Regions from separate parts of the Homo sapiens genome. Here regions 1, 3 and 4 are each linked to region 2. The links come from fine-mapping of genetic effects on gene expression. A gene starts in region 2. Each other region holds a variant in brackets. All regions are shown on one strand. Distances are from middle to middle. Region 1 overlaps CREB3L2 (cAMP responsive element binding protein 3 like 2). Region 2 holds the start of CREB3L2 (cAMP responsive element binding protein 3 like 2). Region 3 overlaps CREB3L2 (cAMP responsive element binding protein 3 like 2). Region 4 has its middle 28 kb from the start of CREB3L2.

What was found. PIP is the estimated chance that this variant, and not a neighbour inherited with it, causes the effect.
Region 1: its variant is fine-mapped to the expression of CREB3L2 in whole blood (TOPMed, PIP 0.96).
Region 3: its variant is fine-mapped to the expression of CREB3L2 in whole blood (TOPMed, PIP 0.97).
Region 4: its variant is fine-mapped to the expression of CREB3L2 in unexposed skin (GTEx, PIP above 0.99). The same link has a PIP of 0.9 or more in sun-exposed skin.

The regions. Positions count from the first base shown.
Region 1 is chr7:137,880,474-137,883,160 of GRCh38, forward strand. It overlaps CREB3L2 (cAMP responsive element binding protein 3 like 2), which reads right to left. Exons shown (of 12, transcript NM_194071.4): 11 at 1,939-2,155; 12 at 1-78. The coding sequence ends at 3. Among named protein-coding and RNA genes, the nearest start is that of DGKI, 35 kb to the left of the region's middle. The variant A/G (reference allele first, on the strand shown) is at 1,563.
Region 2 is chr7:138,000,982-138,003,668 of GRCh38, forward strand. It overlaps CREB3L2 (cAMP responsive element binding protein 3 like 2), which reads right to left and starts at 1,105. Exons shown (of 12, transcript NM_194071.4): 1 at 623-1,105. The coding sequence starts at 724. LOC124901752 (a long non-coding RNA gene) reads left to right here and starts at 1,326. Exons shown (of 3, transcript XR_007060551.1): 1 at 1,326-1,409. RefSeq lists enhancers at 130-728, 645-784, 729-1,326, 875-964, 1,055-1,124 and 1 more.
Region 3 is chr7:137,948,822-137,951,508 of GRCh38, forward strand. The region is part of intron 1 of CREB3L2 (cAMP responsive element binding protein 3 like 2); the gene reads right to left. Among named protein-coding and RNA genes, the nearest start is that of CREB3L2-AS1, 3.2 kb to the right of the region's middle. The variant C/T (reference allele first, on the strand shown) is at 1,617.
Region 4 is chr7:138,028,877-138,031,563 of GRCh38, forward strand. No RefSeq gene overlaps it. Among named protein-coding and RNA genes, the nearest start is that of CREB3L2, 28 kb to the left of the region's middle. RefSeq lists an enhancer at 2,364-2,687. The variant G/A (reference allele first, on the strand shown) is at 1,282.

The DNA of each region.
Region 1 (2,687 bases), 120 kb before region 2:
CTTTAGAAAGTGGTGTTCACTCTTCTGTCGAGTTCTACAACTTTTAGTGTTTCATTCCCCTCCAGTTTGGCGCTGACCCTGTGAAGGCATTAAAAGGAAAACGAAGTATTAGTCACCAGCTGTTAGCTACAATTCTCATGCTTTGTAGCGTGATGCAATCATTCAGGGGTTGCAACTTGGTGAGACGGCCTGGGCATGTTTCTTGTCCTTTTCTCTCCTAGTAGCAATTCTCTGTTTCCAAAGTCCCCTGCTACCAGCCTCTCCACTAGTCCACATTCCTACCTTTATCTACACCCAAGGCATCCCAACCCTACTAAGGATAATCATGGTGGCTTGATATTGATCTGCTATGAGATGCATTAAATTATTCTATTTACTTAGGATGTTTAGCCCTATGCTAAACTCAGGGAAGGAGAAAATAAAATGATAAGAGCTGATCCTTGGCCTAGAAGAGCTAATAATCCAGATAAAGATTTTTAACAATGAGCTAATTTGAAATAATAATAAATCCATAACAGAAAATAAATACATTATTAAATTGTGTAACAACCTGGAAAATTTCTAGGCATTCAGAGGAGGGCTAGGAGGCTTTGTTATCTAGGAGACATCACAGAACAAATGGGATTTGAAGTGGGCCTTGAACAGCTTAGCTGAGAGAAGAGAAACTGTGTCCAGAGCCAAGTAAGAAGGCACTGGGTCTTCTAGAGATCCCAGCGGTGGCTACATTGGCAAGTCTCTCTATGACGGGAATAATAATGATGCCTTACCACATGGGATACTTAAAAGGATTTGTATGATACTGTTTCAGTAGCCCTCATCCGAAAATCTAAAATCTAAAATGCTCCAAAATCTAGAAATTTCCGAGCATTGACATGACGCTCAAAGGAAATGCTCACTGAAGCATTTTGCATTTTTGGATTAGGGATGCTTAACTGTTAAGTATAATGCAAATATTCCAAAATCTGAAATCTATAACACTTCTGGTCCCAGGCATTTCAGATAAGGGATAGTCAACCTGCCTCACATCTGTAAAGTGCTTAAAATAGTAAGTGCTAGTAAATGTTAAATATGTATGTATAATGTACACACATAAAAGTACTTCATTATAAACCTTCCCCTGCAGAATTAGGGGATGAAAGCTGAAGAATCTGAAACAAAATCTTTCCCATTTACATCGGAACGGCCTCATTTCTGGGAGGCATAGGAGCAGAGTTCAGCTAAATCACCAACCATGTCACACGTAACCAGGAGCATGCATGCAGGCCCAGGGACCTCCCCTATTACAACAACAATACCTTGCAGTCGCATAAGCCTTTATGTTTACAAAGGGATTTTTCCCAGAAACTGAGAAACAACTCATGTAGAATTGGAGCCAAATAGAGGTTGTTCTCAATATGGAAATGTGTGCACAGTGCCTCTTAAATGGTACCCCTCAACATACATCTATAAGTATAAAACTATAATATGTATAGTTTTAATTAACACATGTGTATTTACATATAAATCATAAACATATATTGACATATAGCACAATATATATCTACTCCCTAGTTGAAGCCATG[A/G]AACATGTCTTAAAGTTGGATTTGCACAGCAAACACACTGTGGTTACCTGGGCTGTGCATTCACTCGTGTGGCTTGGAAGGGAGGATGGAGACAGTGGGGGAAGGGATTCAAGCACTTCTTTGTGCCACCACGCCAGCTCCCCGCTGATGCAGCAGACATAGGGGAGCTCACGCTGGTTTTTTTCCTCATCTCTGCTCAGGGCAACTGTTGGCCAGCAACAGACTCTCTGCAGTCCCAGGTCCTGGAAATAGGTCCTGAGAGAGCTGAGGGACTGAACCAGGCCTATGGAGAGTCTCAACCTCACATCTCAGGTTGCTGACTCATAACCCACCATCAGTGCACTAGAGGAGTTGGCTCTGTGTCTCTATGACTCACAGGTGCTGCTGCAGCTCCAAAAGCACTGACTTCTCCAGGCTGGTCTCATTCGAGATAATGAAATGGGGAAGATCCACATCCGGCCTGGACTCCAGCCCTGACACCCTGAGCAGGGAGGAACCTCTATCCCAGCCCCCCAGCTCCCCAGCCGAGCCCGGGCTGGATGACTCCTCTGGGGGAGAATGTTCCTCGTAGATCAGCAGGTTTCTGGATCTCACTGAGGACAGAGCAGAATAATAAGGTGTTAGCAAAAGACCACAGGGGTCCAACACATTCCCTCACTCCAGGTGCTCAGGGCTGGTGGCAGATGACAATGTGTGTGTTCTCGTTGCCCAGAACCATGGGTGCCAACAGAATTTGGCTTTCTATAAAGACTTTAGAGCTTCGGAGTTTGTGCATTGAAAAATTATACCAATTATACAGTGCTGGAAGAACAATAGAAAAGCAAATAAACACAAGGCAAACTACCACCCCCACTGCTTTGAAAATATAAAACTCCCCCCTTACCACCCATAACCATCTAGGGAAAATGATTCATGGAGAATGGGAGTGGAATACTTGGAGATGTCCAGACCCAGCTAAAAGAAGCAGCATTCCCAGTGAGTAGGTCTGGCAGGGGGATGAGGTACAGGGCATCTCATTTAGAAAGGGAAGAGGAGACACAAAGCCAAAGCCATAAATCAAAGGATAGAGACAATCTCCTTTGTTTTGTAGGACAGTCACACAGCTAGATGGCTCTGTAGCAATTT
Region 2 (2,687 bases):
CTGGTTTTTCCTCCGAAGAGGGAGGAAGGAGACTTCTTGGTCGTACAGTTTAAGAAAGCAAATAAAGCCGCCTTTCTCCCTAACGTAGAGGAGCCCTTTCAACACACACACACACACACACACACACACACACACACACACACACGTGTACTTTTTAAAATATAAATATGAAAGAAGAGGAAGGGAGGGAGAGAGGGAGAGAGAATACGAGACAGATGAAAAGGAAATGCTACTTAATCTTGTCCAGTTTTTGAAAACCTCAAAAAAAAATCAATAGCAAACTAGGCGGAGGCATGTTATTCTCAAAACACACACTCCCTCTCCCGCATTACAGTACTGTTAACAACAGCAAATGATATTACAGATGGAAAAAGCCTCAGGGAAAAAAGCATGAATTGTTAAAGGAATACAAAGTGGCATTACTCTCATGAGAAATGTAAAGGGGCCAGCTGCCCGCCTTCATCTGCTCAGACATTAAAGTACACCTCGCCCAGGACCTCTTGATTCTGACCATGCCCTGCCCCAAACCCTGCCTTCCCGGGTCCCAGGACTCCAGCTGCTCCTCGCGTGACAACACTTGCCCGCTTTGAAAGCCCTCCTGCCCCGCCCGCCGGGTCCTCACCGTGTGGTACATGAGGGCCTCGCCGTCCCCGGGCTCTGACAGCTCGCTCAGCTTGCGGTCCCACTGCAGCACGCCCTGCTCCCCGCTCTCCAGCACCTCCATGGCGGTGCGGGCCGCGCTGGGCCGAGGATGCTAAGCGCAGGAGGGGACGCGCAGAGCTGCCTCGGACCGGCAAGGTTCCTCTCTCTCCGCGTGTGCTTGCGTGTGTGCGCGCGCGTGTCTGTAGTTTTGCACTTGGAAAGCAAACGTCTGCTCCTCTGCCGGAGAGAGGATGGCCAAGCGCTCCCGTCCGGTGTCCTCGGAGATCCGAGAATCCCCAGGGACACGAGCCGGACCAAAGGCTGCCGGGGCTAAAGCGGGATGTGCATCCAAAATGAAGGCAGAAGACCCGCTCTCATCCCAGGAAAATCCCTTAGCCGCAAGCCCACTTGCCGCTACGGCTCCAGACACAAACTTTGAGGGACCCCAGGGCTCCTCGGCTCTGCTCCAGGACCCAGCTGCGGCCCCACCTCCCTCCAAGGCTTGACCAATTGGATATCCGCCTTGCCTAGCAGACCCAATCAGAAGTCTCATTCTCGGCTTTGTCCCGCCCCCAAAGGCAGAGGCCGCGGGAAGTCTCCGCCCACGCCTTGGAATGTAGCCGGGGAGTGTCTGTGACGTCACCGAGGAACTCCTCCTGCTTGAGCGCGGCCCGCTGTCTGCTGTCGCCTACAGCTGACCAATAGAGGGCTTGGGTCCGGAAGTGATGGACTGGAGGCTTGACTAATGTGAAAGGGGCGTCTGAAAGGTACAGCCAATGAAATAGCGACAAGAATACATTTTGTAAAAGAGGGAGGGTGAGTTCAGTCCTCTTGCTGAGAATCCTCAGAAATTTACCAGCGCGCCGACAGGGGGCGCGAGAGTTGTTGCGCGGGGGGCTTAAACATTTTCGAGTACTTTAGTTCATTTGAATCTCTCGGAATTTTTTTAATGGATTACATATTATACAAAAATACAAATATTCCTCATGCACATACATTTATATTAGTGCAGCTCTAGGAAATTGTCATTGTTCTTCACCTTTTTCGCCCATTTTCTGTTGGGTTCTTCTATTTTTTATGGACTTCACTTATTGTATGTTTTTCTTTCATCTGCTTGATAAGAGTCAATGGCATGCTTTTCCAGGTCCTACAGAAGTGAGCCCAGTCCTTGAATTCATAGAGCTTTTATCTCAGAGGAGTCAGGCAATAAACAAAGAAATAAACATTTAAATTCAGAAAGTGGAAATTGCTATAAAGAAAAATAAAAGCAGGAAAACAGGATGCGTCAAGATCGATGCTATTTTACGTGCTGATCAGGGAAGTTCTTCCTAAAGGAAATGAGATTTCGGGGGAAGCTGGTATTCACGTGATTGCTGGGGAGGCCAGTGTGGCTGCAGCAGAGGTGCTTGGCAGGGAGGGGTGGGAAAGGCCAGAAAGGTGAGCCAGGGCCAGAGCACCAGGCCTGCCTCCTAGAATAGGGAAGAGATGGCCTGTTCTAAAGGAATTCCCCCGAACACTGTGATTCTTCTTCCTCCTTTTTAATTCCAAAAATATAGTTTACCTATCTTAAATATAAAAGCAGGTCTTTGCCAGTTAGCTCTAGAAGTTTCTTACAATGGCACATTCAGGTATTAGCTATTGTGTTGTTTCCTTGGCAAGTATTTTTTGGCGGGTGGAGACAAATGTCTTTGAACTCTATGTTGTCTTTAAAGCAGCAGTTTATCATATAAACTATTGCATTTGTCTGGTCCTATCTTCTGGGGTCTTTTGAGATTTTTTTTTTTTTTTTTTTTTTTTTGAGACAGTCTCACTCAGTTACCCAGGCTAGAGTGCAGTGGCACGATCTCAGTTCACTGCAGCCTCCACCTCCTGGGCTCAAACAGTTCTCCTGCCTCAGCCTCCTGTGTAGCTTGGACCACAGATGTGCACCACCACACCCGGCTAATTTTTAAATTTTTTGTAGAGGCAAGATCTCACTTTGTTGCCTGGGCTGGCCTCAAACTCCTGGGCTCAAGCAATCCTCTCTCCTGAGTCTCTCAAAGTGC
Region 3 (2,687 bases), 52 kb before region 2:
CTTGTTCTGTGACCTGCACAACATAATGAACAACTGGCCATTCAAATGAGTTTCAGTGATGATGATGAAAACCAGCAGGATCATCAGTTTTGTGACTATCCCAGGCTTAAGGATGGCTGTCTGTTACCAACTTACACCATAGGAGTCATCAGAAATATAAAGGACATTCACACAAGAATGGAACAAAGTTCCAAACATGTTTACATGAAGTTGTCCCTCTTCCTAGTTGAGAAATAAGTCTACACCTAACATCAGGGTACAGAGATCACTCGTCTCATGGCAATCTCAAAGGCCAAGTCAGCCCAAAGAAATATCATTTTCTCTTAGGCAAATGCCAGCTATCAAAGTGCAAACGGAAATAGCCACTTGGACCTGGAGTTCGGCATTCAAACTGCTGACCCCATTATCTCTGCCACAGTGAGGCTGATACGGACCCGTGATGGGCAATCCAGCAGTTGGGATTCACTTGCTAACTTCCCACAGACGTTTAAAAAAGAACATGTCAGAAACTGTGTCGTTGTAAGGTGTAAGCCAGATCTCAAAACACACTTTATAAAGGACTCACGTATTCTCATTTTAATTGCAAAATTATCAGGAGAGAGGGAATCTAGGTTTTGTTTCTCCAGTAATTCAAAGGCTTGGGGAGGATTTCCCTAGTTTCAAGATCCTTCTGTGCAAGTTACTTCCTTATATTTCGCTTTTCCCATGGATCAAATGGACACCAGTGTTGCACTAGCCTCTTCCCACACCCCTTTGACCTGGGTATGTTATATTCACCAAGTCTCTTCTATGACTTTATTCAACAGCTAACACAGACGTAAAGCTTGTCAACACCCCAATCAAGATTAGAAAAAAAATCTAAGGGATATTTCATGAATGTTTACTTTGGAACATTTGTGTTTCTCACACCAGGGAAAAATAACATGTTTTGGAAGAATAAAATTAAATAGTGACATTTGCTTAGACACTCATGGATGCAAAACCCAATCCGCACTGGTTATTTGATAATGGTGTTATTGAGAGTGATCAACTCCAGGCCGAGTTGCTGGGAAACAAAGGTCACTGTCAAGATGACTCACTGATTTTCTCTAAGGATCTATTGATAAGCTCCTTGTCAACGGAGGTACTGTCAGAAGTATAATAAGGGAAGTGGCTAAGTATATTATTTTATTTAATCTTCACAACAGACATATGAGTGGGGTCATAATTATCCCCATTAGACCAATGAGAAAATGCAAGCTCAGAGAGGCTTTACAACTTACCCAAAGTTGCACAGCTGAGGAAGGGGTAGAACTAGGAAATCAAAATCAGTTCCTCTGACTGCAAAAGCCACACTCTTTCCAATACACCATATGCTTCTTGATCTTCGATGGTGAAAATGTGGGTGGTTTTGTCATGGATTTGTGGGTCATATGAGGGGTACTGTGTTTTCCAATGGGATAGCTATTCTCACCAAACAGGCACTGGTCAAAGAAAGGATCAAGACTCACACCCTGGATTTCTCCAGAGGGCAAAACGTCTGATAGTCATTTCAGGTAAGGTCAGGTATGATTACCATCAGTCCACACTTGTCTTTTTCTGGGGAAACTGGACCACATCAAAGAAGCTCACAAATG[C/T]TAACGCCTCTCATAAATGTAAGGTGATATTATCACCACTGTTCCCTACTGAGACACAAAGGGCTGTTTCTCCTCTACCCCATGCTTCTGAGCTACTCCGTAGTAGTGCTTTTTTTCAGGATTTGGTTTGTTTGGGGTGGGGAGTGAGGAGGTATTACGAAGGCTCCACAAACACCAGAGTAGCAGTGTCTGTGTATGCATCCGAAGGTGAGCCATTTATGATTTAGTTTCAGAGTAAAACAAACAAACAAACAAAAGGACATATCAGAAACTGTGTCGTTGTAAGGTGTAAGCTAGATCTCAAAACACACTTTATAAAGGACTCACATATTCTCATTTAATTGCAATATTACAGGAGAAAGGGAACCTTTTCATTTCTCCACTCCAGTAATTCAAAGGCCTGGGGAGGCTTTCCCTAGTTTCAAGATCCCTAGTTTCATGGTACAGCCATGGTACAGTCTGAAGAATAATACACTGATCCTCACTATTCACAGATTCCATATTTCTGAATTGTGTCTAATTGATAAAATGTATTTGTAACCTCAAAAATCAATACTTGTGGCACTTTCATGGTCATTTGAGAATCCGCATAGAGTGGCAAAAAATTTGAGTCACTGACATGCACGTGCCCAGCTAAGGCTGAAAAAGGGCACACTCTGCCTTCTTGCTGTAGCTCTCAGGCTATTACGCAGGTTCCTTTTCATGGTCTATTTAGTGCCATGTTTTTCATATCTTTGTGCTTTTTGTTGGTGACGTTGCTGTCTAAAACACCTCCCAAGCACAGTGCTGAAGTGCTATCTAGTGTCCTAAGTACAAGACGGCTGTGATATGCCTCACAGAAAAAAATCCACGTGTTCGATAAGCTTTGTTCAGGTATGGGTGATAGCACTCTTGGCTGTAGCTCAATGTTAATAAACCAACAATATATTGATACATTAAGTATGGTGTCTTTAAACAGAAGCACACATAAAACAAGGTTATATACTGATTAGTGATAAAAATGTAATCAGACACCCGCAAGAACCTAATCCTCTATTTCCCTTAGCAGCAAAGGGTTAGTATTTGCTAGTT
Region 4 (2,687 bases), 28 kb after region 2:
TTTTACCCAGGACAACAGCCGATATTTTTGGCTTTTGAGTTTCTTTACCAAAGGTATCTTTCTAAGGGTCTCAATCAAAATTATGACTTAATCATGGGTGCACGAGTTATCTCCAAAGAGGTGGCAAACAATTTTTACACGATCCAGAATCACCCTAGAGATAGCTCAGAGAAAGGAAAACACAGGACGAGAAATCGGAAACTGTCCATGGAAGGAAAAAGGATCAATAAATGGCAATTCCCTGGCTGGGTATTGAACCCACGCAGCATTAGTCAAATGGGAGAGACTTAGCTACTGTACTACGGCATGGGGTGGTGCATTAGCCTGTATTTGCATTGCTATAAAGAAATACCTGAGGCTGGGTAATTTATAAAGAAAAGAGGTTTGATTGGCTCATGGCTCTGCGGGCTTTAAAGGAAGCATGGTGCTGGCATCTACTTCCGGTGAGGCCTCAGGACACTTACAATGATGATAGAAGGTGATAGGGAGCCAGCATGTCACATGCCAAGAGTGAGTGAGAGAGAGAGAGAGAAAGAAGAGAGATCCTAGACTCTTTTAAACAACCAGAACTTGCATGAACTAAGAACTCACTTATCACCAAGGGAATGGTGTTCAACTCTTCATGGGGGATCTGCTCCTATAATCCAATCACCCTCCCTCCGCCCAGGTCCCACCTCCAACTTTGAGAATCACATTCAGCGTGAGATTTGGAGAGGACAAACATCCAAACCACATCAGGTGCTCTCCACTGATCTTCCCGGAGGGAATGTAGAGCAGGCAGTTTTGAACTTGCAAAAGATTTTAACTTTCAGGTCAAAACTTTTTTTTTTCACTCTTTTTAATTTTATCAAGAGAATTTCTAAGGCTAGCCATGATACTAGCCTATGTCCTTTTAAAATTTTTGATTTTCCCATTAATTATTTAGAATAAGAAATGTATAAAATCTTTTTTATTTTCAGTGGTGTACTTAGTTCCAATAGTAACTCAATGCAAAAGCCTCTTGAAAGCCCAGGTGGTAACTTTCCAGGTTTTTTTCTACATAAGCAAGAGGTATTCCTGGGGAGGGCGTCGAGGAAGCAATCCCCATGATCATTAAAAACTTACTCTCAGAAATAGACTTAAAGTAACAAAAGACAATGTGAAAGGAGAATAAATACTTGGGGCCCTAATTCATTATGCCAAAAGAAAAAAATTATCCTGAAAGCTGAGTCATGTAAGATGTTGCCTTGCCTTTTGTTCCTAAGCAGATAGCTGCAGATAAAAGGTTAATCATCTCCTCAG[G/A]CAGCTACTCTATGTTCACCTTATCTTATGTAAAGTGCTGATTTACTGATCATGAGATAAATACATAATTGTATACATAAATTGAATGCATAAATTCCCCTGCCTGCTGCTTTTCTCTTGCAACATGTGGATTACCATACCCTCCCTCTTTCCCCTCCAGCCCACTTTTCCCCTTTAAAAACTGAAGCCCTCAAAATCACAGCTAGAGAAAGGCACAGACCACAGACTGTTTCTGTGATTCCATGTTTATTTCTTCCAAGGATGTCCTTAACCTTGGCAAAATAAACTTCTAAATTGATTGAGACCTGTCTCAGATACTTTTTGGTTTACACAACAGAAGCCCCATAGAGACGGGACCTTTTAAGACAAAACTCCCCTAAGAGCTTGACACCCTTGAGATGAAGAGTGTGCTGCTTAAAATATTACATCTTGGACTCCCTGTCCTTTCAGACTGGTCCCCTGATATGAACCCAAAAATTCATGCCCTCTTCCTGGACACAGTGTAATGCCTGTAATCCCAGCACTTTGGGAGGCTGAGGCAGGATCCAGTCACCTCCCATCAGGCCCCACCTCCAACATTGAGCCCAGGAGTTCGAGACCAGCCTGGGCAACATAATGAGATACCATCTCTACACAAAATCAAAAAAAATTAGCCAGGCATTGTGGCACGTGCCCATAATCCAAATTACTTGGGGAGCTGAGGTGGAAGGATCACTTGAGCCGATGAGGTCAAAGCTTTGGTGAGTCATGATCACACCACTGCACTCCAGCCTGGATGACAGAATGAGATCTTGTGTCAAAAATAAAAGTTAAAATTTAAAAAAAAATCATGCAGTCCGGATGGCAGAGACCAAGAGAGGGTACCCCCATCTAGTCACAAGATCAAGCTCTCAAGGCCATAAAACAAGATGAGAGGGGACTCTCATCTGATTTTTATTTCTGGGACCTACAGCAAAGTTTGTCTTTACAGATGACAACATAGAACTGTGAAAACTGATGAGTCTGCAGGCTCTTGAACAGTGGGTTTAAAGGGGTTCTAGGCTCATGTTCTCCCCTACGGTACCCCTCTTTATGACGGAACAACCCAGAAAGAAAAAGACAAAGGAAAAGAGCAACAAAAAAAGCTATTTCTGCGAGGGAAGTGGGTCAAACAGTATGAATATTCATACCACATGTACACCAGAGTCACTACAACCCAAGGCTTGTCACACAAATTCTTTTTTCCCATTGATCAAAACCATGTAGAGGAGACAACCAGTGATTTTTACCATCTCATCGGCTGGAGTGCACAGAGGGAGAGAGGCCCCCTGGCTGGTAAGAAATTCTTACCCCTTTGCTTCCGGGTTCCGGGTAAAGGAATCCTTTGCCCAGGTTCCTGGTTTCTCTTCAATGCAGCTTCCAGGACA